Linked DNA regions of Homo sapiens. The protein of the gene in region 2 purifies or fractionates together with the protein of the main gene of each other region. This does not show direct contact. Each region holds a gene or a part of one and is shown on either strand. Other genes may lie near its edges.

Region 1 (6,286 bases), on a different chromosome or scaffold from region 2:
CTTCACAGGCTGCAGACCCAGGCCAGGAAAAGCAAAGCAGAGGCATGTGGTTCCCGTGAGGACAGACACAAAGGCCCGCACCTCAGCAAGCCAAAGCCAGAAGCCTTTCAAAAGAAGGATACCTTGTGCCCAAGCAGGGTGAGCCCCAGGCATGCAAGGATGGTTCTCCCGGGAAATGCCTCAGGGTGACCCTCCACAGTGGCCACTCAAGAGGCAAGAAAGCCTATGGTCACCACCACCAGTGTGCAGAGGATTCTGCACAATTCACTGCCCACGCATGAGAAAAATTACAATGAAACCACAAACGGAAGGAAGCTCCTTGACAGATGAGCTGCTAGAAACCCACAGTGAGTATCACATTTCAGGGCAAAACATTAGACACTCAATGATAAATCCGAGCAAGGAAAAGATGACCACAATATCGACAATCCCACCCGGCCCACTCAATTCTGAGGGGGAGGGAGGGAGCGAGGCAGTGGCGGGGCGGGACCCACGGCCTGGGAACACTCAGCACTGCTCTCATCTGCAGCACCTAGGGGAGGTCCCACACAAACACCAGCTTCCAAGCAGCCAGGAGAACCAACGGGAGAGTGCAGTTCTTCTCTGTCAGTTACTCCGGAAAAATCGGATGCTGCCTCAGCTAAAATTTCAACGGGATTTTTAGTCAAACCTGTGCAGCTAATTCTAAACTTTATGTTTTAAAAACAACTAAATGCATAAGAATAGTAAAAACATTTTTTACAAAGAACAAGCAACAAGAAAGTAGGGCTATCGGATATTAAAGCAAATTATAAAATAACAGAAATTAACAGCGTGGCAAAAGTGCTGATGAACACTCAGTGGACGCAGGGCAGACCAGGCAAAGTGTGAGCATGACACGTGAGGTTAGATAAACTGGGGTCCTCCTGGGGAAAGAGTCAGAGTCCCTCTCACACTGTTCCTAAAAATCAGTATGTATGAATTAAATACTAAAAACAAAGAGGAATCAAAGGCCAAAAAATACAGCAGGAGCCACTCGACTGGATTAGAAATCAAGGAAATGTTGCACCTCATAGACTGGCAAATTTTTAAATGTTTCATAATATCGAGTGTTCGAGGACGGAGGGAGCTGATGGGTGGGTGTGAACTGGCCCAGCCGCCTTGGAGGACAACTGAGGGTTGGGAAAGTCAAGTGGGACATGTGTGTGGTTCCAACTACCCACCCTCCCGCCCACAGGGCATGGGGAGCCACTGTCCACGGCACGGCTGGGGCACAGGCTGTGTGGTGGAGCATAGAGGCGCTACCTGGGCACTGGGGAGGTATGTGGACAAAACAAAGCAAAGCAAGGGATGGAGAGTGACCGGGGGAGGCCTCCAGGAGTGGGAGGGCCCTGCAACGGGAGGAACAGCAAGGACAAACTTTGCAAGCTTGTCCTCATAAAGGCAAGGTGGGGTGGCGCGTGCAGATCCACAGGGGAAATTTCAACACATATTGGGGAAAAAAAGCAAATTGAGGGAAAAAATCCACACATACAGAAAACATGCATTTCTAAAGATCCTAAGGAATCTACAAAATGACTACCAGACCTAATGCATGATATTAGTAAATTCATAGGATACAAGATTAGTATTTTAAAAAACCAATTGTATTTTAACATACTAGCAGAGAGCTGAGAAAAAACTGCATTTATGACAGCATAAAAAACTATAAAATACTTAGCAATAAGCTTATTATAAGATGTAAGATCTCTACACTAAAACTGAATAACATTGATGATGAAATTTAAATGGTGAGATATACTATGTTCATGAATTTGAAGATCTGCTTTGCTAAGATGGTAATTCTGAACTGATCTATAGATTCAATGAAATCCCAATCATAACCCCACTAGGTTTTTGTTGTTGTTTTTAAAGAAATAGACAAGCTAATGATAATTTATATGGAAATGCCAAGGACTTAGAATATCCAAAACAACCTCAAGACAGACGAACCAACAAAAAGGACTTATGTTATCTGACTTCCAGATTAATCCTAAAGCTATGGTAATCAAGACAGTCTGGTTTTTGCTAAGGTACAACAAATAGATCAATGGAACAGAAGACAGCCTAGAAACAGATCCACACTTATGAGACTTTCTGATTTTTCACAAAGGCAACAAAACAATCCAATAAGGAAAGAAAAGTACTTATAACAAATGGTGCTGGAACAGCTGAATATCCATATTAGGGGGAAAAAAGGAACTTAACCACTAACACCACATAGACAAACAATTCAAGATAGAAAAAAAAAACCAATATGAAAGCTCAAACTATAAAGTTTTTAGAAGAAAACAGGAATAATATCTTCATGACTTGGGATTAGGCAAAGTTTTCTTAAATAGGACACACACACATACATATACACACACACAATAACTAATATAAATTAAACTTCTCAAAATTAAACTCTCGTTTATTTAAAAAAAAAAAAAAAGTTCTCACGCCTGTAATCCGAGCACTTTGGGAGGCCAAGGCGGGCGGATCACGAGGTCAAGAGATCGAGACCATCCTGCTAACACGGTGAAACCCCATCTCTACTAAAAATACAAAAAAATTAGCCGGGCACGGTGGCGGGTGCCTGTAGTCCCGGCTACTCAGAAGGCTGAGGCAGAAGAATCGCTTGAACCCAGGAGGTGTTGCTTGCAGTGAGCCAAGATCGCACCACTGCACTCCAGCCTGGCGACAGAGCAAGACTCTATCTCAAAAAAAAAAAAAAAGAAAGAAAATGAACAGGCAAGTCACAGTCTGGGAAAAACATCTGTAAAACACATATCCAACCAAAGACTGGACTCTAGGACAAAGAACTCTTAGAGCTCAATAATAAAAAGACAAAAAGCCTCATGAAAAATGAATTTCACTGACGCTGAAACACAAATGGACAGTAAGCACATGTAAATGCTCTTTTGGTGGCAACGGAAATGAGTACCACCGTGAGATACCATTTCATGATTACCAGACGGCCGAGGCTGAGGAGACGGCAGGCCATGTGTTGGCAAAGCTGAGGGCCAGGAGAACTCTCACAGGCTCTGGTGGGAGTGTGAGTGTACAACCACTCTAGAAAAGCGTCTGGCAGCTGCTTATAAAACTAAACATACACCTACCCTATGACCCAGCATTCCATTCCTCAGCACTTACCCAAGAGAAACGAAAACATGTCCACAAAAAGACTTGTAAAGAATGTTCAGAGCAGCCTTATTCACAGTAGCTAAAAATGGAAAAAAGCCCAGGTGCCCATCAGCAGGAAAGTGAGTAACAAATGGTGTATTCATACAATGAAATACTTCTCAGCAATCAAAAGGCATGGACTGCTGCTACATGCAGCCTGGATGGGTTTCAAAACCATTACGCTGAGCAAAAGCAGCCAGATGCAGAAAGAGTGCATCCTACATGATTCCATTTATACAGAGTCTAAGGCAAGAAAAGCTCAACTGTGGACGACAAAGGGTGACACAGCAGTTGTTACCTCTGGGGCCAGTGGGAGAGGTAATTGACTGGGGGGGTGCGTGACTGTCGGGGAATGGTGGTGATGGTCCATAACCTGAACAGGATTTCAGCTGCACAGGTGTCTACAACATTTGTCAGCAATCATTGAATGGCACACTTTAGATTTGCATTTCATTTTATGTAAATACAATCTTCAAAAGAAAAAGAAAAAAAAAGAACCATGAACTCTAGCAGAATTATTTGGGGTGGAGTGTACTGATGTCTGCCATTTACTTTGAAACGCATTTTTAAAAACCCATGTTGGTAGATGGACAGAAACTGCTAGATGAACGGTTATGTAATAAAGATTGTAAAATCTGTGTGGTGGGTACAGGGTATTCCCTATAAAATTCTTCCCACTTTCCTAAATAAAATTTTTCATAATAAAATACAAAGTAAAAGTAACTTGGGAAATGTAGCTAAAGCTGTATTTAGAGATAACTTACAGCCTTTCACTCCTGAACAAAACATATACAAACAGATAAGCAGAGTAACTGAAACCCAAAGAAAGCTAAAACGGGAGTGATCAAAATAAAAACAAATAATTTTGAAGACAAAAGAGTAGAATTGGTTATTAAATACATTAATTATTAAATGGAAGAGACAAAACTTCTTAATTTAATCAGAAATGAAGGTGGAGATACAAATAAAGAACGATAAAGAAAACAGAATATTTAATAAGAAGGCAACTAACATATGAAGATTGAGATCTGACTAAATTTGATCATTAACATTATTTAGAGACAAGGACCCACTCTGTCACCCAGGCTGGAGTGCACTAGTGCAATTACGGTTCACTGCAGCCTCAAACTCCTGGGTTGAAGCGATCTTCCTACCTCAGCCTCCTAAGTCGCTAGGACTAGAGGCTCAGAGGCATACACCACCTAATCTGACTAATTTTTACATTTTTTGTAGAGACAAGGTCTCGCTATATTGCCCAGGCTAGTCTGAAACTCCTGGGCGTAGGTGATCCTTCCATCTCAACCTTCCAAAGTGCTGGGATTACAGGCATGAGACACCATCCTCAGACAAATTCGATCATTTTATGAGTGGCCAAAATTGACTCAAGTTGTGAAAAAACAAAAAAAAAGGACCAAGTGCCATGGAATAAAATTTACACATCATCAAAGAATTACAGCCTAGAAAATCAGGGTCCAAATGGCCACAGTCCAGTAGCCCGTCCAAATCCACTTTCACAGCTATGCTAGGAACTGTGAAAAAGAAAATGGAGGAATGAATCATTTCCCTAAGAAATATCCAAAAAGGGATAGAAACCATAAAACTAATAATCACAAAAGAAACTGACAAAGTTTTCTAGGTCCTACCTCTGAAAAACATACATTTTCTTTAAAACCTCCAAGGAAAAAATAAAGCAGATAACATAAAAAAGAAAATATTCCAAATTAATTTCACAAAGTCAGCAGAATCACACTAAAAAGATAACCGAAAAATACAAAATAATTTTGACGAGAAACAATCTTAGAAAAACACTGGCAAATATCCAGCATCACGAAAAATAAGGAGATACTCCAAAACAACCTGAGTGGGAAGTGTGGCTTTCAGCCTGCGGAGACGTGCAGCTGGGAGCACGTGGCAAGGCTGACCTCAGAAAAGAGGGAGCCACAGGCCTGAAAGGGTCTGGGGACACCAGGGGCCCTGCCCACACCCACGCCGCTATGCGCAGACACTGTTTTCACCGCGGGCAAGGCCTGGAAGGATTTCACATACCACTGCAGGCACTTCTGAACCATAAAAACTCCACGAGCACAGGTTACTTCCACAATAAAAAATTTCACGGTGGGGAACAAAAATAGGTAATTTTTACAAACAAGGAGCCGAGAGCAGCAGCTTCCCAAGGCCGTCCTCCAAAGGGAGGCAGCCCAGCTCTGCAGGTGCCCACACGGACGGGGTGGCAGTGCCATCCACAACAGGCCAGACCAGCTTGGCCATGCTGCCAAGTCTTCATGGCCAACCTCTCTGTGCCTCCACTGTCCTTCGGCCCCCACAGCAGCCTCTGAAGTGTCTTGGGTGATCCCCTTGGGCACTCCTCGGGGAGTGTGGCTGATGTAGAAGGCCAGATGTGAGGCTGTAGGAATAGGAGGGCCCACGGGATGGGACTTGGGCCGGCAGCTGCCTCAAGACGCAGGCATGGACTTACTCTGCAACCATTGCTCACGCCTCAGCTTCATTTTCTCCTTCTTGGGCAAAACGGTCTTGGCCTCTGCACCTGAGGAAAGAGAACACGGGAGTGAGCAAAACGTGTCCAGGTGGCACTCCCATGACCTGAGAATGGGCTGGGGCGGGTCCTGACTGCAGAGCTGCCACAGTCACTGCAACTGGTCTGGCCTGTGCCAGCCTCTCAGACTCCCGGCTCTGGACAGCACCAGGGGCACCTGCAGCATGCCTCGGCCCGGCCTCAGGAGGCTCTCTCAGCAGCGTCCCCCCGCAGTGATGGCCTGGCCACTCACCCCAGCCTGCCCCGGAAAGCAGGTGTCCCAACAAGGAGGCCTCCTCCCCACTCATGCCCCGAATGACTGTCAGGGCAGTCATTGCAGTGAAGCCATGCAGGAATGCCCGACGGCTCATGAAGGGGGCCACGAACAGGACAGAGGCCCTTAGGGGGACATCCCCAAGATCCTGTGTGGTCACGTCAGGCCCAGCGACGTACGTGCTCCCTGCCCCCTGCCAGGCCCGACAATGTGCTCGGTGACCAGAGGCTTCATCCCTGGACCCCACAAAGCGGCCCTCTCAGGGAGCCTCCAAAAGTGAACTCCACAGGTGCCCC
Region 2 (6,097 bases):
GTGGCTGTGGAAATGTGTAGATATTAGAGAGAGAGAATCCGAAAGGCAAGCGCACCCCGACACTCAACACCCGCTATTTACCCTTCCTTAGACTTTTCACTTAACTCCCGGTTCCTTTCCCCATCGGCACCTTGGGCGGAGAGAGAGGCTGGTTCCTCTTGGGTCACTGGTCCTTCCCTGAGCCACTACATTCTCCCAGCCAGAGCAAAAAAGTTCAGCGCCCATCCTGAACCTCACCCAGACCCACATCTTCATGGGGCACAGCTGGTTCCAAAAAGCAGTTTCATGTCCTACTGACATGGAATGCAGCCACATGTATTGGAGAGGGATAATGACAGAACCAGCACCCACACCTCTGTGAGGAGTGGCTGGGCCTAGTTCAGGGCCTCAGGGGAAATACTGAACCCACAGGATATTTTTTTCTTAGGAACCAAAAAAACTGAAGCACCATTTATCACATTCAAATGCTTTTCACAGGCCAGGTGAAATGGCTTACGCCTGTAATCCCAGCACTTTGAGGCCGAGGCAGGTGGATCACCTGAGGTCAGGAGTTTGAGACCAGCCTGACCAACATGGTGAAACCCTGTCTTTACTAAAATATACAAAAATTAGCTGGTTATGGTGGCAGGTGCCTGTAATTCCAGCTACTCAGGAGGCTGAAGCAGGATAATCGCTTGAACCCAGGAGGTGGAGGTTGCAGTAAGCCGAGATGGAGCCACTGCATTCAAGCCTGGGCGACAGAGCAAGACTCCATCTCAAAAAGAACAAAAAACAAACAAACAAAAAACAAATGCTGTTCACAAAGTAGGCATTCAAAAGCACATATGTGGTCAAACTAAGTTCAAAGGGGTCAGCCACCCCGCTCATGTGTCCCTATGGTTCCTAAAGAAATATAAAGGTTCTAACTCCAGAATCCTGCTGTTTGCCATGATCCTCCACCCCCATTCACAAGAATCTTCGGCACCCCTCCCCATGATCCTCTGGTCCCCCAGTCCACGACCCCAAAGCCCGGGGGGTGGGGTGCAGTGAGGGTGGGTCTCCCTTCTTCAGTTCCTCCTATTGTTCCGCAGAAGTCTTATCTGGGCGCTACATCCTGTACCCCCCTTAGGAATCCCTCCCTATTATCGGCTAAAGGGACCTCGGGCCCACAGGGAGGCTCCAGGTCTCCTCCTCACCCTCCCACCCCAGCAGTCTATTGTCTGTTGAGGAAGCCCAAGTGCACGTGACTGAGCCCAAGGGACGAATGGATACAGTGGACTCGGAGATGCATTAAGGACCCAGGACAGGGCATCTGGACATGGCTGTGTGAATGTTTGGCTCGCTCTGTTCCAGCGGCTCTCCCAGAAGTTGGGAGGGGTGAAGATCCCCTTGGGCTGTCCGCTCTTGGGTCCATGGCTTGAAGAAGAATCCCCTTCTGCTCACTATGAACATGGCTTATGACCTCGCAGAGAGCAAAGATAAGGAGACCCAGAGCCAGGAAAAGGTCTCAGCCCCCAGGATCCTCTCCACCTTCCCATCCTCCCTCAGCTGAACATGGTAGCCTCAGAAGGAAAGGTACATTGGCATTTTGTGCTTTCGTATCTGGGTGTTGGGGGAATGGTGAGAAGTCACACTGCATTGGGCTTTCTGGTGGGGTCTAGACCAGAGGGTGGGTAGGGAAAAAGAAGGGCTGGGTAAAGAGGATACATCAAGAATCTAGGGCTGGCCAGATGCAACGGCTCATGGCTGCAATCCCAGCACTTTGGGAGGGCAAGACTGGTGGATCACTTGAGCCCAGGAGTTCAAGACCCTGGGCTACATAGTGAGACCCTAACTCTACAAAAAAAAAAAGGGAAGAAGAAGAATCTAAGGGCTTTCCAGTGGTTCCATGCCTCAGTCTTTGTCCCTCAACTGCTGCAACTGCAGTTGAGGGACAAAGATAGCAACATCTTTTATCTTACACCCTGTCCCCTTCTCCTTTCACCAGACCCCCTCCTCCAATGGCTGGGGCCAACCGATCTCTTCCATATCACTTCACCCCACCTACCCCCACTACAGCCTCCCCTTCCCTCTGCCAAGACAGCAGCCTCGGTGATATAACAAAACCTTTATTCTCAGAAAACAGGAAAAACAAAATTAAAAAACAAAACCAATAATTTCTATCTGGCCCCTGCCCCAGCCCTCCCACCCACCCACATATCCTCCTTTTGGGGGGACCATGATGCATGCATAGGGATGGGAGCTGAAGGAAACTGTGTTCCTTGGGCAGAAAAAAGTCCTTGGGTCTAGGTGTTCTCCTCCAAGTTGATATCCCTCCCAGCCTTGCCCACCCTCCAGACACACCAAGAAGGAGGAATTCTGGAGCAGTGCCAGAAGGACTGCCCTGAAGCTCCTTGGGGAATAGGCGGCTGAGTCAGCACCACCCCCATGGTTTTCACCAGTTACAGCTCATCTTCATCCAGCTTGGCAAGTCTGGCTTGGCAGGGAGGGGTTTTTGGAGTTGGAGAGACTGGAGGAGAGTCATGGGGAGCCTGGGGGATGTCACCAAGGGCCTGAAGAAAAGATTCAAGTCAGAGGATCAAAAAGGCCAGAAATCTACCCTCACTTCTCTCTTTTCAGTTTAAGTCCCTAGCCAAGCCACCTCCTCTTGCTAGATATCTTAGACTGTCTGAGACTATCAGCTTCTCCAGAGTTAAAATAGAGGGGAGAAGCGTAAGGGATGGGAAGTAGGAAGGACCAGATAAAAGGAAGGAATGATATGGGGAGGGAACTTGGGGTCCCAGAACAAGAGAGGCTCTCCCCTTTTTATCCCTACAATGAGGGAGCTCTATTCGTCATACCTGTTTATCCAGTGGCAAGAGGGCTCTGGCCACCTCCCCTTTGGGTGACAGCAGCAGAGAGGGGAGAGAGCCATTGATGGGTGTGTGTGTGCTGCCCTGGGCCTGATCTCCAAGCTGAATTCTTCCAGGGCTCCCCACTCCAGGCCCTCTTGGCCGCCCCAGGCTGTTGGTCTGGCTCTCCCGTCTCTGGTACTCAATGGGTGACTGCAATGCTGGAGCAAAGAGAGGAACAGAAGGAGGGTTACCGCAGAGACAGGTCTGCTCCCTAGGGCCTGTATCATTCTCCCACTTTGCCCTCCCTCCCTGTCAGCCAATGTCAATTGCTTAGGGCTTTAGGGGATTCTATCAAATTTTGAGCTAGCAGTGGAAAAGGGGATGGGCCATGGTCAGAGGGTAGGTACTGGAGACTGGGCAGTGAGGGATTCAGGAGGTTAAGGGGCTGAGAGAGCACATCGGGAAGAAAGGATGAGAGCTTCACCGTTGAGGAAGTCCCGTTGGCTCTCCAAGATCTGAGCCACATGCTTGATCCAGGCCTGACTGATAGCAGGGTCTGCAGCCTGCAGGACATAGCGCTGGATCCCACCCTCTGGCCCTCTGGAGGTCAGTGCAAAGCGGCAAGGGTCACCTTGGAGGTTCCCCTCCAGTCCCAGGCAGCTCACCTGAATTGGCAGATAGGAGACAGCCCCCAGATTCCTCAGGCCCTCCCTGGCTCCTCTGAGACATCCTCTCAGAGGCCTCATGCCCTCTCTCTCTCCAAGCCCTCCCTCGTGGCCTTCTCCCCACCTTAATGCTGTTCTTGTATACATATCCAGGCTGTGTTCCACCTCTCACTCCTCCTCCCAGGGCTTCACTGAAGATGATGATTTGCTCAAAGAGGAAGACGCGCCTCTCTCGACCTCGGGAAGACAGCAGCCCTCCAGCCTCAGGCTCGGTGACCCAGAAAGTGTCCTGGCCCAAGAGCTTCCCCTGAGCAGTCAGTTTGCCCTGAAACCAAAAGGATAGTGGCCTTGGAAAAAGAACAAGAAAAAGGACAATTCTCTGCTCCTCCCTTCCTCGCCTGACATGCCCAACCAACCATGGGGTCAGCCCCAGGAGAAGACAACTCCCCATAAGGACCTCCTGAATGCTAGGGCTGGGGCAGAAGAGCATCGGGCCTCCAGTTTCTTGCCCTATCTCCGTACCTCAAATCCCCGCAATCTCCCCAGCGTCATCATATCGTTGCAGCGCTTGGGCACAAAGCACATGACCTCCACAGCTTGCTGGGACACAGGTGAGGGAGGCGCATTGTTGGGCGAAGAGAGTCATTATTGGGAAAGAGGCCTCCTCGGCCAGTTGCCTCTTCAGACGGTATCTCAACCCCAACCAGCCTCCCCCTAAAAACCAGACAGCTGTAAACCACCCAAGGGGCTGGGGGAACCCATGAGATACTAGGAGGATAAGGAGCACATGGTGTGTCCTGGAAGATCTGGGGTCCTCACCTCTAGGTCTGCAGTATCCATCCCAGCTCTATTGTAATACTTGAGAAAATCCTAAGACAGAGAGAAGAAATGCTCAGGGAGGTCACGAGGACACCCTTAGAAGCTCTCACATCCTCCCCTGAGGACACCAGTGAGGGCCCTCAGGAAGTCTGGGGGAGCCCTAAGAACCCTGGGGAGATGAATGAGGAAACAGCTGTGCCAGCCAGCTGTGCCCCCAGGAAAAAGGGGGTCCTGACCTTGAGCAGCAGCTGGTATTTCATGATCCGCTGCACAGGTTTGATGAGGAGGTCGTTCAGCTGCAGGCGGTGCCCCAGCTGCTGCCGGAGCTCCTGGGGACAGGGACAGGGTGGTTATGCAGCCTGGAAAGCCCCAGTTCTGTCCTCCTTCCCACCAAGACATCTCAGCTACTGACCTCAAAGTAGCTGTCCCCAAACTCTGACACCACATGCTCTGACTTGGGCTTATTCTGACAGTACACCACATACATATGCAGCCGGCGCTCCTAACAGGGGTAATGTTTAAGAGAGAGCAGGGTGGGCAAGGAGGGAGGACGCATCTCCAGAGAATCCCAGCCCATTCCTAAGCCCCGCCCCAGGCCCTGCCCCCTCAAGCCTCACGTGTTTGATGAATAGCTGAGCCAGCCAATCAGGATCTTTCAGACACCGTTGTAGCTCTTGCAAGAAATAGCTGGAGGGGTTGGTAGAGAAGCAGCAGGTCAAATACATTTCACAACCCCCACCTCGCCCACTCCCAGCAGTTTCGAGCTGTCTGCCCTGGTAGTGTGCCCTACAAAACTTCTCCAAACATTCCTTAAGTCGCAATGGGCTGATGTTAGGATACAGGACAACCAGATGAGGGCCCCTCTCCAGCACCTAGCTGTCAGAGTTCCACCACTCACTCTCGGTGCCACTCATAGATTTGCTGGATATTCCCAAACACAATCCTGTCACGGCCTCGAAGACTCTCGGGGACCCCCTGAGCAGCCATGGTGGCCATATAACCCTGTGGGAAAGTTGAGGTTGGGTCATGAGCATGTGGTGGCCCTCTCCCCACCTTAATGGTGCTCCTGTACACAAATCCAGGGTGTGTTCCACCTCCCCCTCCCTGGTGGGAGCCGCCCTGCCCCCAGAGTAGGAAGGTCCAGGAGTGGGGAGGCTTGAGAGGTGGGACAGAGGAGCGCCCAGGCACCTCCTGAAAATAGCCCTGGGCAGATGGAAAAGCAGGCAGGAGGGGCTGGGAAGGGGTAAAGGGAGCTACCTCCACAATCTGCCCCAAGTCGTCCACGTACATTTTCTCTGTTTCTACCAGTTCACTCAGGACATACCTAGGATGAAAGCAGGAGGAGGCCCCCACTTCAGCGTCGGAGCTCATCCTTGGTTCAGCCCGTTCCTCCCTCCTCCCCTTTATCATCATAGCCAACCTTGGAGGAAATTCCATCTAAAATGTGAGGGACAGTCTTCTGGAAGTTGTGCAACTGCAGGGAAGGGCTGTGGACACTTACATACTCCTTTCCAGAGCCTTCTTCTTCTGTTCCTCCTCACTCTCAGGGGCTTGGGACAAAGTCTCCTCTTCAGGTGGCTGGAAGGAAAGAACATCCTAGGGTGAGCAAACGAATGCCCCTTGAGTGAAAGGAGCCTCCCCAGAGCCTGTCCTCACACCTGCGTCTTATCTCCAGGGCCCTCCAACAGTGTGGTCAGCAAGGTCAGTTCCGGCAGCTCCTCTCCTGTGGCTAGAGCTGGCTCCAACATCCAGTTCTGGGGGCCAGAAATCAAGTGTCAGAGGTCGGGGACAGTAGCTGGG
Region 3 (6,286 bases), about 22 Mb from region 2:
AATAGAATATGGCCTGCTGTTGATACTAATATTTTTATAACCTAATACTTCACAAAAATCTTCATGTCCACCTACAACGAAAAGTTAATATCGAACTGGTGGGTGACTATTTCTAGAAGCAGTTTACTAGTGTAGTACTTCTCAGATGCTTTAAGCTATTTCTTGCCTACTGTGTAGATCATATCATTTAAATGTTTTTTTGTGAAATTGTTGTAAACTAAAATTACTAACTACATGTAATGCTCTCACTAAAACACATTTTTATGCTTATTTCTTAAAAAATACATTTCTTTCTCAACTATATATTGGCATATTGATACTCATTACCATTTCCTATTATTTTATATAAACTTTCTATTTAAATTCTGAGTAATTCCTACTTTAAATCAGATATAAGTACTAAATATAGGCATTTCATATTTTAAAGCCTAAATCTTACAGTATTAGTCATGATAATATCAGTAGTAATGTAGAATAAACAGCAGAAAATAAAGTTTTTTCCCAATTTCCAGCTATATATTTTCTCATGTTGATCATTGAGATGTTTCAGTTCTTTAAACTTCTATGTGTGAGGCCTGCATTGTGTTTGTAAAAATGTTGAACCAACATTTAAAATTAGAGATACTCACTTCAAACTTCAGATTTTTGCCATTTCTTGAAAAGTTGGCTGACCTGGCAACACTGGATCTGAATTCTCACATACCAACAATTGGCTGGAGCTAAGTAGTAGCAGCTGCCTACCTTCCATCCCCCTAGATAGTCCCCTGGCCCATTTTACCCATTGTTTTTACAATTACCTTGCAAAATATTGTCAAGATATATTGCTATATTGTGGTTCATTGCAATCCTTAACAGAGGGAGAAAAAAGAGAAGAGGAGAAAGAAGGAGAAGATAAATCACAACCTAAATCAATCAGAGAACGACGACGACCAAGAGAGAAAAGAAGATCTACAGGAGTTTCATTTTGGACACAAGATGTGAGAACCTATTAAAATACATTATTTGATAGTATTCTTGATAGTATTCTTAATGTGTCCAAAAATACATACTAATAATTTCTTATATGCCTTAGATTTCATATTCCTTAAATCATCACTGTGTTTTCTGAGTTGTTAAATAAGAAAAATTATTTTTAAGGATAGTTAACTACTTAGATTGTTGGTACTACTTAAAAGGAGTGGTTCTGACCTAATTATGGAATAGAAATAATAATGTCTGAAGCTCAGAGTGCATGTATTGATTATTTTATAATAGGTAAACTGCTTCTTGTAAAAACATCTTTTAAGAATTTCTAAGGAGTCTATTTAATTTCATTTTCATAAATATCATTATAAGATCTACATTACAGATTACTTCCATCTCAAAGCATGCTAAATAGACACAGTGCTTTGCTTATCAAATTACAACAGTCTTGTAAAAATTAGTGTTTTCCTGGTCCTTGATTGTAGGCCTGACATTGCTATTCATTGATTTTGTTTCCATTTTCTAAAAAATAAACCTTTTATTGAAGTATGGCATGTTTAGAAACATAATTCATACATGTATAGCTTAATGGATTAGCACAATAGGAGCATATCTATGTAATCACCACTCAGAATGATGAATAAAAACAGCAGTGTAGATTGCCCCCATGTTCTCCCTCTCAATCCCTATCATCCTCATTTTCAAAGTCAGCTAGTATCCTGATTTCTAACACCGTAGTTAACTATGCCTGTTTTTGAAGAGCATATGACTAGAACTATAAATTTTATAACTGTTATGTTTATAAGATATATCTATGCTATTTTATGTAGCAGTACATTTACTTCTATTGTTATAAAAATATTTTTTAAAGAAAATTTCTAACTATTCTTTCACTGAAAGAACATGGAATCATCTGTCTTCCTGTTAAACTGACCCATCTCTCACTATATGTTCCTCTTTATCTCTAATATTATATCTGACCTTAAATTCTGCTTTTTTGAAAAGCTTCCTTTTGATTATCTTTGTATAATATATCTTTTCTGTTATTTTCAATTTATTTGTGTTTTTTTTAATAAACAACATATTTAGGTCAACTTTTTTCTGAACTTTTTTTTAATTGCAGTGTTTCAGTCCATTTTAATTTTACTTAATTACTAATTACTTAATTACATGAAACAAATAACATTGTCATTTGCAGTTTAAAATATATAAAGAGCTAAGGCATATGAAAACAATAGCACAAAAATATGGGAAAGTATTAAATGGAGTTGAAGAGTTTTAGTATCTTCGCATTGTCCATGCTGTGGACAAAATATATATTCAACTTGATGAATCAAGAGTGCATATGTCTATTTAAAAAAGTTTAAAAAGAGAGGGAAAATCATACATAAATGACAAAGAAGGGAAGAACAGATGGGGAAATCGGAAAATAGTTTTCTATTTTTCTTTTGATTTTTAATATAGAAAAGTTAAACATATACTTTATAGAAGTAACATAATAGTATAATGAGCCCTACCCCCAGTATTCATTTTTTCAGCTAAATTCCCACTCCATCTCCCAACTCCCATATTATTTAGAAGAAAATCCTAGACATCTCATTCTATCTACAAATGTCTCAATGTATATTCTGAGAGAGAAGGACTCCCAAAAATAATTTTAAAAAATAAATTTTGAAATTATTACTAAAATTTCCTAAAATATAAATTGGCAATCTGTTTTTAGAGTGATGAAAATGAACAAGAACAACAATCAGACACAGAAGAGGGATCCAATAAGAAAGAAACTCAGGTAAATACCATTACTTTTTGTATTGAGAAGTATTCATATTTTTTAATAATTACTTTTAAATTGCGTTTTATTATGTTTATTCATGCAAAGCAGTTATTGCATACTCTACCTACATGCTGGGTATGCAATATCAGTGTTTGCCTGGGGATCAGGATTAAAAGGACTGGGAAGGGTCACAAAATAATGTTTTGGAGGTGATGAAAATGTTCTGAGTCTTGATCCTAGCAGTGGTTTTATGGATATACAGAACTGCCAAAACTCACCAAATTGTACACTCTAAGTGGATGTAATTTAATGTATGTCATTTAACCTTCGGAGTTAAAAGAAAAAGCAAAAAAAGAAATAGTACCCTTGGCCAAAGGAAAATATCTAAAGGATAATCAGAAGTAGTGGAAATCCAGAAGTAGTAGGCTCAGATTTTATTTCTGTAGATTTTATTTCAAAGTTATGTTCTGGAGAATATAGGCATCTTTTAACTTTCTTTTACATATATTTAGAAATTTAGAGTCTCCAACAGATTTTTATGTTGAGAATCTAAAAGACATTTTTTTCCTCTCAGTACTGATGAAGGACCTAAAGCAAGTTTGAATGACAAGGCTGCACAGCCAGCAAGGGTTGAAAGTTCCCCCGACCCCCTTCCTGATTGTTTGGCTGTGTAGAAAGCTAAAAAATATTCAAAATATTTCTGTTCATATGAGGATAGAGCTGAACAACACGAGTCTAAACCTGGCACTGTCTAGCATGAAATAGCATTCTGGTCATATTAATATTATTTTCTTCATTTTGAGTTGAAGTTCCTTAATAGAGCTATTACATTTCTTTTTAGTCAGCAAGGATCTACAGTAATGTGAACAAAAGTTGGTTACCTGTGCTAGGTGACGGTGAACATTATTTTAGGGCCAAGTTTGCCTATTTTGACCCCACAATTTTATTTTATCTTTAGGTGGCCAGACAATGAGGAGTGAATTGGTTCTGAGGTTAAATTATTTGCAGGCCTAAAGCTTTAACTGTTACCTAAATTTTTTGGTTATCAGTTATCAGAACTCCCCAATTTACCTATGTCCCTTCTTTATTAAACAAGAGGGGAGGAAATTAGTAAACCATCCCCATCTGACACCTCTCATTGCCTTATCACGCAGACTCCAGCCCCCACCAGGCTGGAGTGGAAGGGAGATTGTCTGGCTTTTAAAGTTGTAATTTTGAAGCATATTGATGTATACTGTATTTTAAGTTTTACTGTTAAAATCATATGAGATACGTTAAGATGAAGAGGAACATTGTTTCTAAGACGAAAAGTTTTTTTATTTTCAATTTAAGTAGTTTTTGTTTACTTTAGATTGTTTAGAGTTCTTTTAAAGTAATGAATAACATATAAATAAATATAACAAATATAAATAACAATATGAAACCTAAGTCAAACTGGATTAAACAAAGAAAATGTATTGTACTCCAGTTATATTCTGCAGTCCTTTGTGTCAGCTTCATCCTCAGGCTGATGTACCTCATAGGGATAGGATTATAGTTGGCTTAGGATAGACAGGGCCTATCACTGAACTGTTGCAGCCATTTTGCTACCAACATGGGCCATGTGTCATCTCACCTAAACCTAGTAACTGCTATACCATGAGAAAAAGGAAGAATGGATGTAGATAAATAAATAAGGTGCAATGTATGTGCATAGATCAATATTTTCTATATTCACATAGATATTATGTGTCCAGAAAAGGTTGGTTAGATAACAGTGGTTATCTAGAGAATGGAGGGATGAGGAATTACACAGGAACTTTGTATACCATTATGTGAACTTTACAATACCATAGTCAGAAAGATATTTCTGAATATCTTTCTATATATTTTAATCTTTTTTATCTTTAAAAAGATATTTTTACTTTGGAAAATTAATCTTAAAATTTGGGGAACAAGGGCGTTATGCTAAATGAAATAAGCAAGTTACAAAAAGACAAGAACTGTGTGATTCCACTTATTTTATTTGGGTATCATAGAAACAGAAAGTAGAACCTTTGTTGCCAGAGCTAGGAAGAGGAGGACAAAGGAAGTTGTTCATTGGATATAGAGTTTTATTTTTGCAAGATGAAAAAGTTCTAGCGATCTTTTGCACAACAATATGAATATAATTAAAAATACTGAACTATATACTCTAAAAAATGGTTTACATGGTAAATTTTATATTACGTGGTTTTTACCACAATTCTTAAAAGTTTTTAAATAATGCTAGGCCGGGCATGGTGGCTCACACCTATAAGCCCAACACTCTGGGAGGCTGAGGTGGGAGGACTGCTTGAGCCCAGGAGTTCAAGACCAACCTGGGCAACATAGGGAGACACTGTCTCCACAGTAAATTTAAGAAATTAGTCGGATGTGATGGTGCATGCCTGTAGTCCCAGCTAACTAGGAGGCTGAGGCAGAAGGATCAGTTGGGCCAGGAGGTCGAGGCTGTAGTGAGCTGTGATCATATCACTGCACTCCAGCCTGGGAAACAGAGCGACACCTCATCTCAAAAATAGTAATAATAATCAGTGATAACACCATGATTTTTAAAGATAATGGAATTTGAGTGATTTCTCACTAGACTTTTTATTGTTAAAATTTAAATCAGTGAATGTAAGTGCAGACTATAAGGTAAGATGTATTATTTTTGTTTGATATGTAGACATTTTAGTTCAGGAATGGCCATTTTACTGAATTTGATTATCTTGAAAATTGAAATTTATTCTTTAAAATTGTTAGTTGTTGTTAAACCAAAGAATAAATCAATAAAAGAAAACATTACCTTAAAAAACAATGTAAGGAGCAAAGTTAAAATTGGTTTTGCAGAGGAAATTTACAGACTTTAGTAAAACATTTTTAGTCCAAAATAGACTTTAAACAATCCCAAAAGTAACCTAGTAATTTTACAGTATCTCCAAAGATAAATATAATGGGAAATCACTAATATTTAAATTAAGAAGTTTAACAAACCATTCTGAATAAATTATAGAATCAGTGAGTATTTCAATAGAAAAAGAAAAGGCTAAATTTGACTACTGAAAAAGACTACTTTGGCCCCCAGTAAGACTGTTTTACCTTATTAATCATTTCACGATTTAGATAAGACTTTCTGGAACTTCAGTGTAGCATACCACTTGCTTGAGAAAATTAAATTTCCTGTCACCTAATTGCTGACCTTAAAGGTATATAGCTAGATTTCGAGAAAGTAAATTTTAAACAAAATATGTATATACTGTTATGCATAAAGAACCTTAGGTGTTCATTCGTTTGCTTCTATTGATACTACATTAAATTTACTTATAATCATAGGTTAATAGTTTAATGAAAGCATAAAAATTTAGTATGCCTATGTTTTTCTCTTTCTTTCCAGACGGATTCCATTTCTAGGTATGTTTTATTTATTTTTTAACTGACATTTTTTTCTTATTTTTATCTTTGTTAAAAATGTGTTGCTAGGAATTTATGGATTTTGTAAGTTTATAGAATTATTTGATAATAAAAAACAAATTTTGATGGCCTTATCAT
Region 4 (6,021 bases), on a different chromosome or scaffold from region 2:
AGCCTCCCTGTCGGCCTGGTGTTCTGTGGGATCCCTCTGGGCACTGGTAATCCCAAGATCTGTGCAGCCCCGCCTCCAGGCCACATGGGGCTGGGCAGCTACCATTTCCCTTTTGCGGATGGGAGGGGTAACTTGCACCTCTGACCTATCACTTCCACTGCACCCCGTCTCATTCCTCCACCTGCCGTGGACTTGGGGTCAGAGACTGCTGTGTTTGAGCTCTGCAGCCCAGGGACCGAAAAGTTGGTGTCAATGAATTTTGCTTGGTGGATGAAATGTCAGTGGAAGAAGCAGATGAGAAACTCTTGAGATCTTGGTCCTGTGTTTTTTCTGCCACCAAAGGCCAGGGTCACTGAAGGCCTGGCCCACAGCAGGTGCTGAGCAAAGGGAACAGTGAGGTGCCCAGCTAGCTGCAGAGCCACCCTGTGTTGACACCTCGCCCCTGCTCCCTCCCATCCCTTCCCCCTTTACTCATAGCACTTCCCCCATTGGACACGTGGTGCATTTTGCTTGTTTATTATGTTTTCTCTCCATCAGAATGAAAGCTCCTCGAGGGCAGGGACTTTGGTCTATTGTCTGTATTTGCCGGTGCCTAGGATTGTGCCTGTATGCAACAGGCACTCAATAAATATTTTTGCTGTAGACTGGACAGGCATGAGTTAGATTCTCTGGGGCTTCTGCAGAGACTGGTTTGGGAAAGTGGGTGCTAGGGAAAAGCTCTGCTCCCTGCAACCTCCCCATTTTAATCTTTCAGTATTGAAAAGTGGAGAGGAACCGGATTCAGTCTGCTGGGGACAGAGGCAGTGGGGTGTGGAGGTGCTCAGAGCAGCCTTTGGGAAGGTGTGGGGGAAGCTGGATTCCCAACTGTCAGCCTCCAGGCCTGGGATGGACCTAGGATGCTGAGAAAGGGCATACACTGCTGAGGGAGTCACCTGCCAGTCACCAGCTCACTGAGGAACCAGAAGAATGTACAGTTCTTGGTTTGAAGGCACTTGGAGAAGGAGAGGAAGGAGGGATGGGAGCTGAATCTCTTCCCGCCCCCATCTCTGCCAGGTCCCAGGCCCCCTCTGGGCTTCTGTCCCACACAGACCTGCCTGGAAGCCTTCAAAGGCCGAGGAGCCCCGGTCGGGGTGGGGGTCCCTGTTCTGGAGCCATGGGTTTGGAGTGCCAGCTCCAGCAGAGGCATCTGAGCAGCGGCCTGAGGTGCTGTGTCTGACATGGTTGTTGGCCATGGAAGGCCTCGGGCCGTCCTGAGCTCAGATCTTGGCTGCCGGCTGCTGGGGCGGCTGCTTCTGCAGCAGGGCCAGGGTGTCCCGCTTCTCAATGGAGCGCAGCTGCTTCTTCTTTGCCCGCTTGAGCTTGGCGGGGTTTCGGATCTGGGGGTGGTATGAGGGGAGGACATTAGTGCAGCTGCAGCCTCGGTCCAAATTCCCAGGGGAGAGGAAGGCCGCCCCACAGGGGCCTGAGATCGTAGCATGAGAGTGGGGGTACATGAGGCAGGGGTCGAGGCCCTGGTTTGCACCCCCAAGTGGGGCAGAAGGGCAGAGGGGGAAAACGAGACACTCACCACTTGGACGACCTCTGCCTTCCGCTCATTCTCCAGGCGGCGTTTCAGGTTCTCAGCCCGGCGCTGTTTCTTCTCCTGGAACATGTGGGAGAAGGGGATTTGAGTCGGGGAGCAGAGGCAGCCCTGGTCTCTCAGGCCCCAGAAGAGTGCGAGCGGGCAGAATTCCCAGGAGGAAGGGGAAAGGCCCTCTCTGCCAGGCTCCAGGTTGGTGATGTGTGGGTGGAGGGCTAGCAATCCTGTGCCACGGTCTAGTGCCAGGGGCCTGCTGTGGTGGAAGCTCCTGATAGCATGTTGAGAGGTGGGTATGGGACAGGCAACTGAGGACAGGGGCTGAGACACTGGGGGTGCCCACCTGGAGATTCACGCACATGCAGACAGTGACCCCTCATGCCACCCTCATCAACTGCCAAGGGAGAAAGGGGTGCTGGCCCTTCCCCCATTCCCACCCTCTCCGACAGTCTCCCCCTCTTCCCCTGGAGTCCTGCTGCTGCAGAATGCCAGGCTAGGGGTGAGGGCTGGGTCCCTGAGATTTTCACAGGTGTGGGGCTGGGCAGGGGCTGCACTGCACAGAAAAGGCTCTGGAGCTATCTGGGCTGGGTTTCAATCTGGATCCTGTTATTTCCTAAACAGGAGACCTTAGCTAAGTCTGTGCCTCAGCTTCTTCATCTTTAAAGTGACAGTGACCACAGTATCTACCTCGTAAGATAGTTTTGGGAAATCAATGAGGGAATGCACGTGCAGGACTTGGAGCAGCCCCTAGCTCCTTGGGCACACTGAGACTCTAGATGGAGTCTGTCTTGGGAGGGGAAGCCCAGTGCTCTCTAGCCATGCTGACTGTGTCCCTCAGCAAGGCCAGGGTGGGGACGTCAGCTCCAAGGCTGCTGCATGGTTAGGAGTCTCTGCTGGCTTTGGTGACTTGGGGTAGCAGGGGTGGCCCAGGCCCCTGGGGAGGAAGGAGAAGTGAGCCTTGGCCTCCTGTGGTCAGGGCAGGCCCGGGCTGGGGGCTGGGCAGGAGCACCTCCGCAGTGGACGGTGAGAAGTGAGACGGCAGCTCTGTCTTGCCCAAGAGGGAGCCAGGGCCACACAGGAAAAGAGATAAGGCCTCAGCATATGGTGGCGGACACACTGTTCCTCAGATGTCAGCTGTAAGCTGAGCTGGGGTGACTTAGAGCAGGGGACAGATGACTGAGTGACTGGCCCACCCCTTTTCTCAGTGGCCAGCCTGGGACCACGGACTATGGATGAGTTGTCTGAATCCCGTTCGGCACTCCTCCTACACGCCTGGGTCATTAGAGGAGTGGAGGAGGAATCTCCCACTGACTGCCCTGCCCTGGGGGGCAGGAGCTGACCAATGCCACTCCGCTTTCTCTGCATGCTGCCTGCTGAGTGCCCTCTTCCCCCCGCTTAAAAGTCCCTGGCAGATGTGGGTGAGGCTGTGACCCTTTACAGGGGCTTCCTGGCTCTGGGATGGGTGACAGGGGACAGAAGTGGAGGAAAGGTGCGGGGGCCATCCACGTTGCTGGTGTGTGGGCTGCTTCTTGGAGAATGACAGCAGCCATACCGGGGACATGGAGTTCAAATCTGCAAGCCCTTCCCAACTGAGTACGTCCCAGCAAAGGGCCCTCGACCCCATCTCACTGACTGCCCTACCACCCAGGACTTCCTCCCGGGCTTCTCCCCAAGGCCCGCTTCTGGTCCTCCCCCTCCGTCCCTGTCCCTGAGGCTCTTTCAGCAGCCCAGGCTAAACTGTATGGTCCCCTGGGCCTCCCTGCCCTGTAGTCCCAGATTGCACTTCTGCTTCTGGCCAGGTGCCCTTCCTCCCTCCGGCCTTCAGATTCAAGAACGTTTTTTAACCAAGTCGGCCTCCCCCAGGCACCCGTGGAGGCCCTCGCCTCAGGTCTGTACCAGTAGACACTAGCTTAGTCCTCTGAGCCCCAGCCTCAGCCTGGCTGGCCCCTCACCTGGCGGCGCCTCTCCTTCTCCTCCTCCAGGTGACGGGCAAAGTCCTTGGCCAGCTTCCTCTCCTGTCGTTCCTTCATCTTCCGCTGCCACGATGTGCGCAGGGGCTTGTCCTGAAGCATCTGGGAGAATCTGAAAGGGGGAGAGTGGGTGCATACAGGGTCTGTGGGGCAAGCGCCACCCATGCCCTGTCTCCTCTCGGCCGGAGGCTCTGGACCTTCTTCCCCAGAGCCCAGGCAGAACCACCTCCTTGCTGGCCTGACAGGCGGCCTTCCAGGGCTGCAGAAACTTGGGGCGGGAGGGAACCCTGATCGTGCTGGCTGCCATTTCTCAAGCCTTGGCTACATGCCTCTGAGGTGGGTACTCCTATCCTCTCCACTTACAGAGGAGCAGGCCAAGGCGCGGAGAGGTTAAATAGCTGCCTAAAGATACCTTGTGGCAGTCAGGACTTGAATCCTGTCAGCGACTGCAGAGTCCAGGCTACGCGGCCCCTGCTGTAAAGTTCTGTTGCTTCCGCCAAGTGCATTTGGCCCGGGTGTGAATGCCTCTGGAGGCGGGGCGCTCACCCCCTAGGGAGGTGGCCCATTCCATTTCAGAACAGTGTGAGTGGTTAAAGTTCTGGGTAATGATTCAGGATCTTCCCCGCCAAGACCGGATGCAGTGGTCATGCTTGTAATCCCAGCACTTTGGGAGGCCAAGGTGGGCAGACCACGTGAGTCCAGGAGTTGGAGACCAGCCGGGCAAACATGGCAAAACCTACTAAGCCTACTAAAACCTACTAAAGTTTCTACTAAAAATACAAAAATTAGCTGGGTGTGATGGTGTATGCCTATAGTCCCAGCTACTTGGGAGGCTGAGGTACAACAATTGCTTGAACCTGGGAGGTGGAGGTTGCAGTGAGCCGAGATCGCGCCACTGCACTCCAGCCTGGGTGACAGAGCAAGACTCTGTCTCAAAAAAAAAAAAGAAAAAAGAAAAAAGAAAAAGAATCTCTTCCCCCAGTTGGAGATGAAGTGGGCATCAGGGCTCTCAGGGAAATCTGAAAAGAGCAACGATGATTTTAGAGTTACAGGAGAACTGAGCTCATCTCTGTAAAAATGCATACTACAAGGATTTATGAATGGGATGATATGTCTAGGATGTACTTTAAAATATTTCAGGGAAAAAAAAATGCCAAAGATCAGCCGGGCGCAGTGGCTCACGCCTGTAATCCCAGCACTTTGGGAGGCTGAGGTGGGCCGATCACCTAAGGTCGGGAGTTCGAGACCAGCTTGACCAACATGGAGAAACCCTGTCTCTACTAAAAATACAAAATTAGCTGGGTGTGGTGGCACACACCTGTAATCCCAGCTACTTGGGAGGCTGAGGCAGGAGAATCGCTTGAACCCAGGAGGCGGAGGTTGCGGTGAGCCGAGATTGCTCCATTGCACTCTGGCCTGGGCAACAAGAATGAAACTCCGTCTCAAAACAAAAAAAAAGAAAAAAAGAAAAAAAAGCCAAGTATCAAAGATGAAGCTACACTAGTAAAATGCTGAGCTGTGTTGATGCTGATAATGGGGACTTGAGAGCTTTGCTCTTTCTTTGTATGCTTGAAAATTTCCATTCAAAAAAAGTAAAAACAAAATGCAAAGAAGTCTCTCGGTGGCCTCCACATGCTGAAATTAGGTCTTTCTCTTTTAAAGATTCAAGGCCCATTTTGGTGTCCCTTGGCCCTGCCGACTTCTGGCCCCAGCTCCCTGATTTCCTTCTCCCCTTCCCAAGGCCTTGCCACTGAAGGCCTGGCCTCCTAAGCACTAAGAATGGGGTGCCACATGGACTTCCCCCATAACTGTAAAGCTGGGCTTCCCAAGCTGGGGTACGAGAACCCTGAAGGGACAAGGTGTTGGGAGCCTAGAGACACACAGAACCACAAGACACAGTGCTGCATCTGTGTAGAGCAGGGCTGTCAAACAGAACGTTCTGTGATGGTGGAAACATTCCACATTGACACTGTCCAATAAGGTAGCCACTAGTCATGGGTGGCTGCTGAGCGCTAGAAATGTGGTTGGTGTTGATAGAGAAACTGAATCTTAAATTTTATTTAATTTTAATTAATTTAAATGTACATAGCCACATGTGGCTGGCGGCTAAGGTACTGAGGCAGGGCAGTTCCAGACCATTGGTTCTACCTGGGTATTGAGGAAACTCAGGCCTGGGTTCCAAGTCCAACCTGGGTGACCTGGAGCAAGGTAGCCTCTCTAAGTCTCAGCATCCTGTCCAGTGGAGATGAGAATCATTCCTAACCCAAAGGGTGGTGGGAGATTTAATCGACACACACACGTAATAGGTGCTCCATAAATGCTACTCCTCAGAGAAGGCAGACAGCATGCCCAAGGGCACTATGGAGAAAGTGGCGTTTGGCATGAGCACGAAGACAGGGCTGCAGCCAGGTCTCCCTCACCACATACACTTTCCCAGCTGCGGCTGTCTTCCTCCCTGCAGCAGGAGCTGCTTCC
Region 5 (6,755 bases), on a different chromosome or scaffold from region 2:
CATTCTTCATAGAAATAGGAAAAAAAAATCCTAAAATTCACATGGAAACGCAAAATACCTCAGATAGACAAAAGAATCTGGAATAAAAAGAAAAGCTGGAGGCATCACACCTGACTTCAAAACATACTACAAATCTGTAGTAAGCATGGTAATACCAAAACAGCATAATACTATCAAAAAAAGGGGCGGGGGAGAAACAGAAACGAAGGAATGACAGACATAGACAAGTGAAACAGAATAGAGAAATCAGAAATAAATTCACACATTTATGGCGTACTCATTTTTAACAAAGGCACCAAGAACACACATTCGGGAAGGACAATCTCTTCAATAAACTGCTAGGATAACTCAACACCCACATGTGCAGGAATACATCTAGGCCGTTATCTTACCATATACAAAAATCTGCTCAAAATAAAGATTTAAATGTAGGACCTGAAACTATAAAACTACTAGAGAAGAAAACATAGGATAAATGCTTCATGAAACTGGTTAGGACAAGGAATTTTCAAATAGACATCAAAAGCACAAGCAACAAAAGCAAAGATGTAATTACATTAAACTTGTCAAAAGCACAAGCAACAAAAGCAAAGATGTAATTACATAAAACTTAAAAGCTTCTGCAAAGCACAGGAAGAAATCAGTAGAACGAAGAAACAACCCAGAGAATGGAAGAAAGTATTTGCAAACTATGCATCAGCCAAGGGGCTAATACACAAAATATATAAATAACTACTCAAAAGCAAAAATACAAATAATTTGATTAAAAAAAAATCTACCCCAAATCTTTGTCTCCCACCATTATTTTCCCACCTTCTTTTCCCGACCGCCTTTGGCCTCCTCCCCCTCGCCACCCGTTTTCTTCCTCCATCTACCCCAAAACTTTTTCCCCACCATTTTTCCCTACCGTCATTTCGCAAAGCCTTCTCTGCTCTCTCACTCACCACCCTTTTCCCCATCCACTTACCCACTTTCCCCACTGTTTTTTCCCACCGTCTTTTCCCTTTCTCCCTGGCCACCTTCTTTTCCCCCATCCCACTCTCATCACCCTCTTTTGCTCCTTCATCTAAGCAAAAACATTTTCTCCCGTCTTTTCCCAAACCCTTCTCCTCACTCCTGCTGCTCACCACTTTTTCGCCCTTCATCTACCCGAAAACTGTTTTCCTCATCGTCTTTTCCCCCGCTCCTCCTTGCCACCCTCTTTCCCTTCTCTACCCAAAAACATTTCCCCATAGTCTTTTCGCAAAGCCTTCTCCCCACTCCTGCTCACCTCCCCTTTTCCCCCTCCATCCACCCCCCAGAATATTCCCTACTGTCTTTTCACAGTCTTCCCCCCTTCCCACTCGTCCTCTTCTTTGCCCTATCCTGCTTGCCACTCTCTTTTTTGCCTTCCATCTACCCCAAACTATTTTCCCATTTTTTCCCCAACTCTCTTTCCCTGCTCCCTCTCGTCACCCTCTTTCCTCCTCCTCGTTACCCTCTTTCCCCCCACCATCTACCCAAACACTTTTTACCCACTGTCTTTTCTTTCTCCACCGTCTTTCTTTCCTGCCCACTATCTTTTTGCAAAACCTTGTCTTCCTCCCGCTGGCTACCCTTTTCCCTTCCCCCACCTGTTACCCTCTTTTCCCCCTCTATCTACCCAAAACCTTTTCTCCCCACTGTCTTTTCACAAAACCTTCTCTCTCTACTGCTCAACGCTGTTTCTCCCCCCCACCACCCTCTCTTTCCTCCTCCCTTGCCACCCTCTTTTCCTCCTCCATCTACCCATAAACATTTTACCCACCATCTTTCTGCAAAACCTTCCCTCCCTGCCGCTCCCCACCCCGTTTTTCTCCCTCCATCTACCCAAAAACTTTTTTTCCCACTATCTTTTCCCCACCGCCTTTTTGCAACGCGCTCTCCTGCTCACTATCCTCTCTTCCCTTTGGCACTAACCACCCTCTTTACCCCCTCCATCTATCCCAAAACTCTTTTCCTCCTCTTACCGCTTCCGCCGCACTGCCGTCTCGGTCGCGGTTACCACCAGTCGCAGCGAGGCGAGCCACGGTGTAGCGGCTCCAGCCTCCAGCGTACGGCTGGTGATTACCCATTCCTGGTCCTCTAAGCCGGGCACTGAGCAGCTCCACAGGAAAATACGGGAACGTGGAAGAGCCTGACTTCCCTTCAGCAGCAGGCGTATACCGCGGTTATATACAGGAGGATTCCTGACTGCATGTTCTGATTGGATGAGAAAAACCCTCCAGGGTTACTTGGATTGGACTTTATTATCATGTTCTGATTGGATGAGAGCCAGTCTTAAGACAACCAATCACAGCATGAAAATAAAGTCCAATCAGAGTAGGCCTAGAGGTTTTTCTCTCATCCAATCAGAACATGTAGTCTGGGAACCACATGTGCGTAACCTCAGTACGTAAAGCATGCGGAGGTGGCGTCAGGTCATTTCAGGCTCTTAAGTGTGGGCGTTTGGTAACCGGCATGGCTGCTACCTGTTTCTGGCTGGAGCCTCGGACACTGGCTCACTGCAGTTGGTGGTGTCCACAGAGCGGTAGGAGGGCAACTAGTAGCGGGAGCTTCTCCTGCCAGGCAGGAAGACGAGTAGAAGGGAGCAGCACCGACGCATGCTGGAGGCTGGAGCCTGAGCCCCTGGGGCTCGCCTTGCTGTGTTTGGTGGTGACGTGGGACACTGCAGCTCGGCCAGAGTGGTAGAAATGTCCTGGTGTAGGTGAGTTATCCGGGGATGTACTGCCCGCCTGTGGGGGCAGGGGTTGGGTGTCCTATTGGGGCTCACTGCCCGAGGCTGCACTGCCTGTGTCAGGGGGCTGGTTGGGGGCACTCTCCGAGGTTGCATTGCTGGCGGTGGAGGGGGGCGGTTTTGGCTGGCTGTCCGGGGCTACACTGCCCGTGGTGGCGGGGGTGGTGGGGGGGAGGCAGGTTGTGTGCACTAACGTGTACTGCCGGTGGCGGGGGAGGGGTTAGGGGCACTATTTTCTGCTGCACTGCCCGGGGCAGGGAGTGGTTTGGGTGGTTATTTGGAGCTACAATGCTGGCAGCGGGGGGTGGTTTAGGAGTGTTGTCGGGTGCTGCACTGCCCTTACTCAGGGTGCGCTATCAGGAGCTGCGCTACCTGTGGTGGGGTGGGGGCGGCGATTTTGGGGCACTGTCTTGTGCAGCAACACCTGTGGCTGGGTCAGGTTGTGGGCACTATCGGGTGCTACACTGCCTGTGGAAGGGGTGGTTGGGGGGGGGTATTGGGGTTACACTGCCTGCAACTGGCACAGGGTGTGTTGGGTGTGCTGTCCGGGGGCTACACTGCCGGCGGCAGGGGTCAGGTTAGGGTTGCTATGGGGGCTATACTGCCAGTGGTGTTGGTCGGCTGCAGAGGTGGTGGGGACAGCAACAGCCATGGTCTCCTTGCTCCTTCGGGTAACTCTTCTCTTTTCCAGACTCCAGAGTTCCTGCTCGTGCAATCTTGAGCAGGGCAGGGCCCCCACACCCACTGCGGTTCTCCGGCCTGCACCTCCCGCCCACACCCCATGCTCTGTGTTGGGGAGACCACCTGGGACTACCGGGTGGGGATTAGTGGGCATCGCGGGGGACTGTGGGAACAGGGCACTGTGGGTGGAGGTGTCAGGAACGGGAACCAGCAGTTGAGTGGGGAGGGCTGGCTGGGTCTGAGTTTCTCCTACTCCTGCTCCCCAAGGAGTGCAGCCCTGGTGGGCCCAGCAATTTCTGGCCAGTTGCACCTGGATGGGGGTGGTTTCAGCATAGGCACTCACACCCGCCCCAGTTCCTGGCCACCTTTTGCCAGAAAGAGAGGCTGGACTTCGGTGGGTGGGTGTGAGTGCCTTAGCTGAAGCTGGTCCCTGCCACCCAGTGGCCAGCATGACAAGGTGAGGCTCTAACGTTACCACTCCCTGCATCCCATTCTAGGCTTTTCTGGCTTTGCCGGTCTAGCTGCTCCAAGCCAGGCTGGAGGAGGAGGAGAAGGAATCACCTGTGGTACGCTGGAGCCTGCATGTGGCGTGACTCTGCAGCTCGCCTCGTGTGACTGATGGCAGCCACGGAGACTGCAGCTCGACAGGAGTGGTAGGAGGGTGCCCGCGGGGGCAAGGTGGTAGGAACCTTGTAGGGTGGGCTGCTGCATTGACGGCGACAGCAACTGTATTGGCATTGGTGCTAGTGGTGGTAGTGGCAGAAAGTCTGGGGACTGGGAAGGGGGAGTAGGAGCACTGCAGGGCCCAGTCCGACCTGGGGTGGGGAGGAACCTGCTGGTGCTGTACCATGGGCCTCGGTGGCAGTGGTGGAGGTGCACTTAGGGAAAGGAGTCCTCCCCCTTCTCTTGCAATCTCTGGAGGGTGGCCTCCTTCTGAGCCAGGCATGAGTGGCAGCATTGTCTCATTCTTAACAAAATTTAGGGGGTGACTGTGTGTGTGTGTGTGTGTGGCTTTTTTTTTTTTTTTTTTTTTTTTTTTTGAGACAGAGTCTCGCTCTTTTGCCCAGGCTGGAGTGCAGTGGTGCGATCTCGGCTCACTGCAAGCTCTGCTTCCTGGGTTCACCCCATCCTCCTGCCTCAGCCTCCCTAGTAGCTGGGACTACAGGCGCCTGCCACCACGCCCAGCCAATTTTATTTTTGTATTTTTAGTAGAGATGGGGTTTCACAGTGTTGGCCAGGATGGTCTAGATCACCTGACCTCATGATCCGCCCACCTTGGCCTCCCAAAGTGCTAGGATTATAGGCGTGAGCCACCACTCCCGGTCATTTTTTCCTTCTTTTTTGTTGTGATGGTCTTGGACTTTTTCAAATTTTGTGAATTGGGGAGGGGATAAAAGGTGTCATAATAGGCCTTCTAATTCCTGCACCTGTTCTTTTTGCTTTTTCTAGTCTGTGTATTCTTCTCATCTTCTTGTTCCTCTTCATTTTCTTTTGCTGCTGCTTCTATTTCATGTTTCTATTCTTGTTTCTCCTCCTCTTTTTGTTTTCTTTATGCCAAGCAATGGCCTTAACAAACAACAAGCCAAAATTGTCACTGTGTTGTATTTTTAAAATAACTGGTCCTTTACTATGTTTTAGGGATGAGGAAAAAAATCAGTTGTATAATTAGTTACTTGAATAGCTATGCTTTCATGATTGTGTTAAACCACTTATGCCTAGTGTTCCATTATTGGAATGGTAAGCATGAGGGAGTTAATTACATCCTACTGCTCAAGGTCATTAGAAGGTTTGATTTTTCACTCGTGCAAAAATTCAAAAAATTGCAGCCTCTGGCATAAATGGGCTAATGCGTTATAAGTAGTTATTCAGAGAATCAAAAAATGAAGCATCACATAAAAATATTGGTGGCAAACAGCCATTTCATCTCTCTCACATATTTGGAGCTATGCAGGAGTCACGGGGTAAGTTCTAATTTATGAGATTATTAAGTGAACTGTATTGCCTTCATTTTCTCTGCCACCATTTCCTTTGTTTTCTTTCTTTTTTTTTTTGAGATGGAGTTTTGCTCTTGTTGCCCAGGCTGGAGTGCAATGGGGCGATCTCGGCTCACTGCAACCTCCGCTTCCTGGGTTCAAGCAAGTCTCCTGCCTCAGCCTCCCGAGTAACTGGGATTGCAGGCATGTGCCACCATGCCCAGCTAACTTTGTGTTTTTAATAGAGATGGGTTTTCTCTATGTTGGTCAGGCTGGTCTTGAACTCCCGACTTCAAGTGATCCACCTGTCTCAGCTTCCCAAAGTGCTGGGATTGGAGGTGTGAGCCACCACGCCTGGCTCTCTGCCACCATTTTCAAGAGTATTGCCATCTGCCTGAGCAAACCTGGTTCATCACCACCTCTTTGCAAGAGAAAAAGGAAGTCGGGAGAATTGTGTGTAATTTTTTTTTTTTTGAGATGAAGTCTCGCTCTTGTCCCCCAGGCTGTAGTACGATGGCCCGATCTTGGCTCACTGCAACCCCTGCCTCCTGGGTGAAAGCAGTTCTCCTGCCTTGGCCCCCTGAGTAGCTGGGATTATAGGTGCCTGCCACCACGCCCGGCTAATTTTTGTATTTTTAGTAGAGATGGGGTTTCACCATGTTGGCCAGGCTGGCCTAGAACACCTGACCTCAGGTGATCCACCCACCTCGGTCGGCTGTGTGTATTTTAAGGCAAAGATTCACAACCAAAAACAAGGCTTTATTAACTTTTGTATCTAAGAACCTGCAGTGTCGAGCCCTCTTTTATTCCTAGTATTACTACTTTAGGTGTGAACTTTTTATCTTTATTTTACTGATTCCTCTAGAAGTTTATGCATTTTCTTGACTGCTTTAAAGACAATCTATATTGTATCATTTTTCAAGCCCGTAGAAATGTGTAAGGCCTATAATTTGAACACTTGTTATTTTTAAGGTTATGAGCATGTAATATACCATTGATACATGGAAGAATATGTATAAATACCACTAGATAGGTTATATTGAAGAGATAATATCTAAATTTTTGTCCAGAGTTGATGGGGTGCAGTTTTGTAGGTGTGTTTCTCAATACATTGTGTCCATGTTTTAAAGCATATAGAAATTTGAATACTGTTTAACCTCATATAGTCCTTGTTTATAGGTTTAATATTTCTAAAGACTAAAGACGTCACAGCTCCCTTTAAGATTCAGTAATACTAATAAAATTTGAGATATACAGGGTTAGAGTCCAACAAATTCAAAGGAAAATTGTTGAATTATATAGCCGTAGAGCAGGAATGAAACCCAGGTTCTAAGTTCCAAGGGGGC

The links.
Region 1: the proteins of ARHGEF25 (region 2) and SLX9 purify together in Homo sapiens (affinity purification with mass spectrometry; one large-scale study listed by BioGRID and IntAct). This does not show direct contact.
Region 3: the proteins of ARHGEF25 (region 2) and PPP1R12A purify together in Homo sapiens (affinity purification with mass spectrometry, with the first as the bait; one large-scale study listed by BioGRID). This does not show direct contact.
Region 4: the proteins of ARHGEF25 (region 2) and CCDC86 purify together in Homo sapiens (affinity purification with mass spectrometry, with the first as the bait; one large-scale study listed by BioGRID). This does not show direct contact.
Region 5: the proteins of ARHGEF25 (region 2) and POTEE purify together in Homo sapiens (affinity purification with mass spectrometry, with the first as the bait; one large-scale study listed by BioGRID). This does not show direct contact.

The regions. Positions count from the first base shown.
Region 1 is NC_000021.9:44,959,542-44,965,827, reverse strand, and holds part of SLX9 (ribosome biogenesis protein SLX9 homolog), read right to left. Parts: intron 5,729-6,286; coding exon 5,660-5,728; intron 1-5,659. UniProt on the Homo sapiens protein: May be involved in ribosome biogenesis.
Region 2 is NC_000012.12:57,613,218-57,619,314, reverse strand, and holds the end of ARHGEF25 (rho guanine nucleotide exchange factor 25), read right to left. Parts: intron 6,052-6,097; coding exon 5,956-6,051; intron 5,876-5,955; coding exon 5,799-5,875; intron 5,622-5,798; coding exon 5,555-5,621; intron 5,300-5,554; coding exon 5,196-5,299; intron 4,985-5,195; coding exon 4,915-4,984; intron 4,800-4,914; coding exon 4,710-4,799; intron 4,627-4,709; coding exon 4,534-4,626; intron 4,349-4,533; coding exon 4,298-4,348; intron 4,079-4,297; coding exon 4,001-4,078; intron 3,804-4,000; coding exon 3,603-3,803; intron 3,479-3,602; coding exon 3,298-3,478; intron 3,032-3,297; coding exon 2,820-3,031; intron 2,532-2,819; coding exon 2,421-2,531; 3' UTR 2,070-2,420; downstream 1-2,069. UniProt on the Homo sapiens protein: May play a role in actin cytoskeleton reorganization in different tissues since its activation induces formation of actin stress fibers. It works as a guanine nucleotide exchange factor for Rho family of small GTPases.
Region 3 is NC_000012.12:79,790,329-79,796,614, reverse strand, and holds part of PPP1R12A (protein phosphatase 1 regulatory subunit 12A), read left to right. Parts: intron 1-855; coding exon 856-977; intron 978-2,686; coding exon 2,687-2,752; intron 2,753-6,131; coding exon 6,132-6,148; intron 6,149-6,286. UniProt on the Homo sapiens protein: Key regulator of protein phosphatase 1C (PPP1C). Mediates binding to myosin. As part of the PPP1C complex, involved in dephosphorylation of PLK1. Capable of inhibiting HIF1AN-dependent suppression of HIF1A activity.
Region 4 is NC_000011.10:60,845,561-60,851,581, reverse strand, and holds the end of CCDC86 (coiled-coil domain-containing protein 86), read right to left. Parts: intron 3,659-6,021; coding exon 3,529-3,658; intron 1,643-3,528; coding exon 1,568-1,642; intron 1,377-1,567; coding exon 1,257-1,376; 3' UTR 501-1,256; downstream 1-500.
Region 5 is NC_000002.12:131,207,095-131,213,849, forward strand, and holds the start of POTEE (POTE ankyrin domain family member E), read left to right. Parts: upstream 1-2,441; 5' UTR 2,442-2,725; intron 2,726-3,933; 5' UTR 3,934-4,089; intron 4,090-6,755.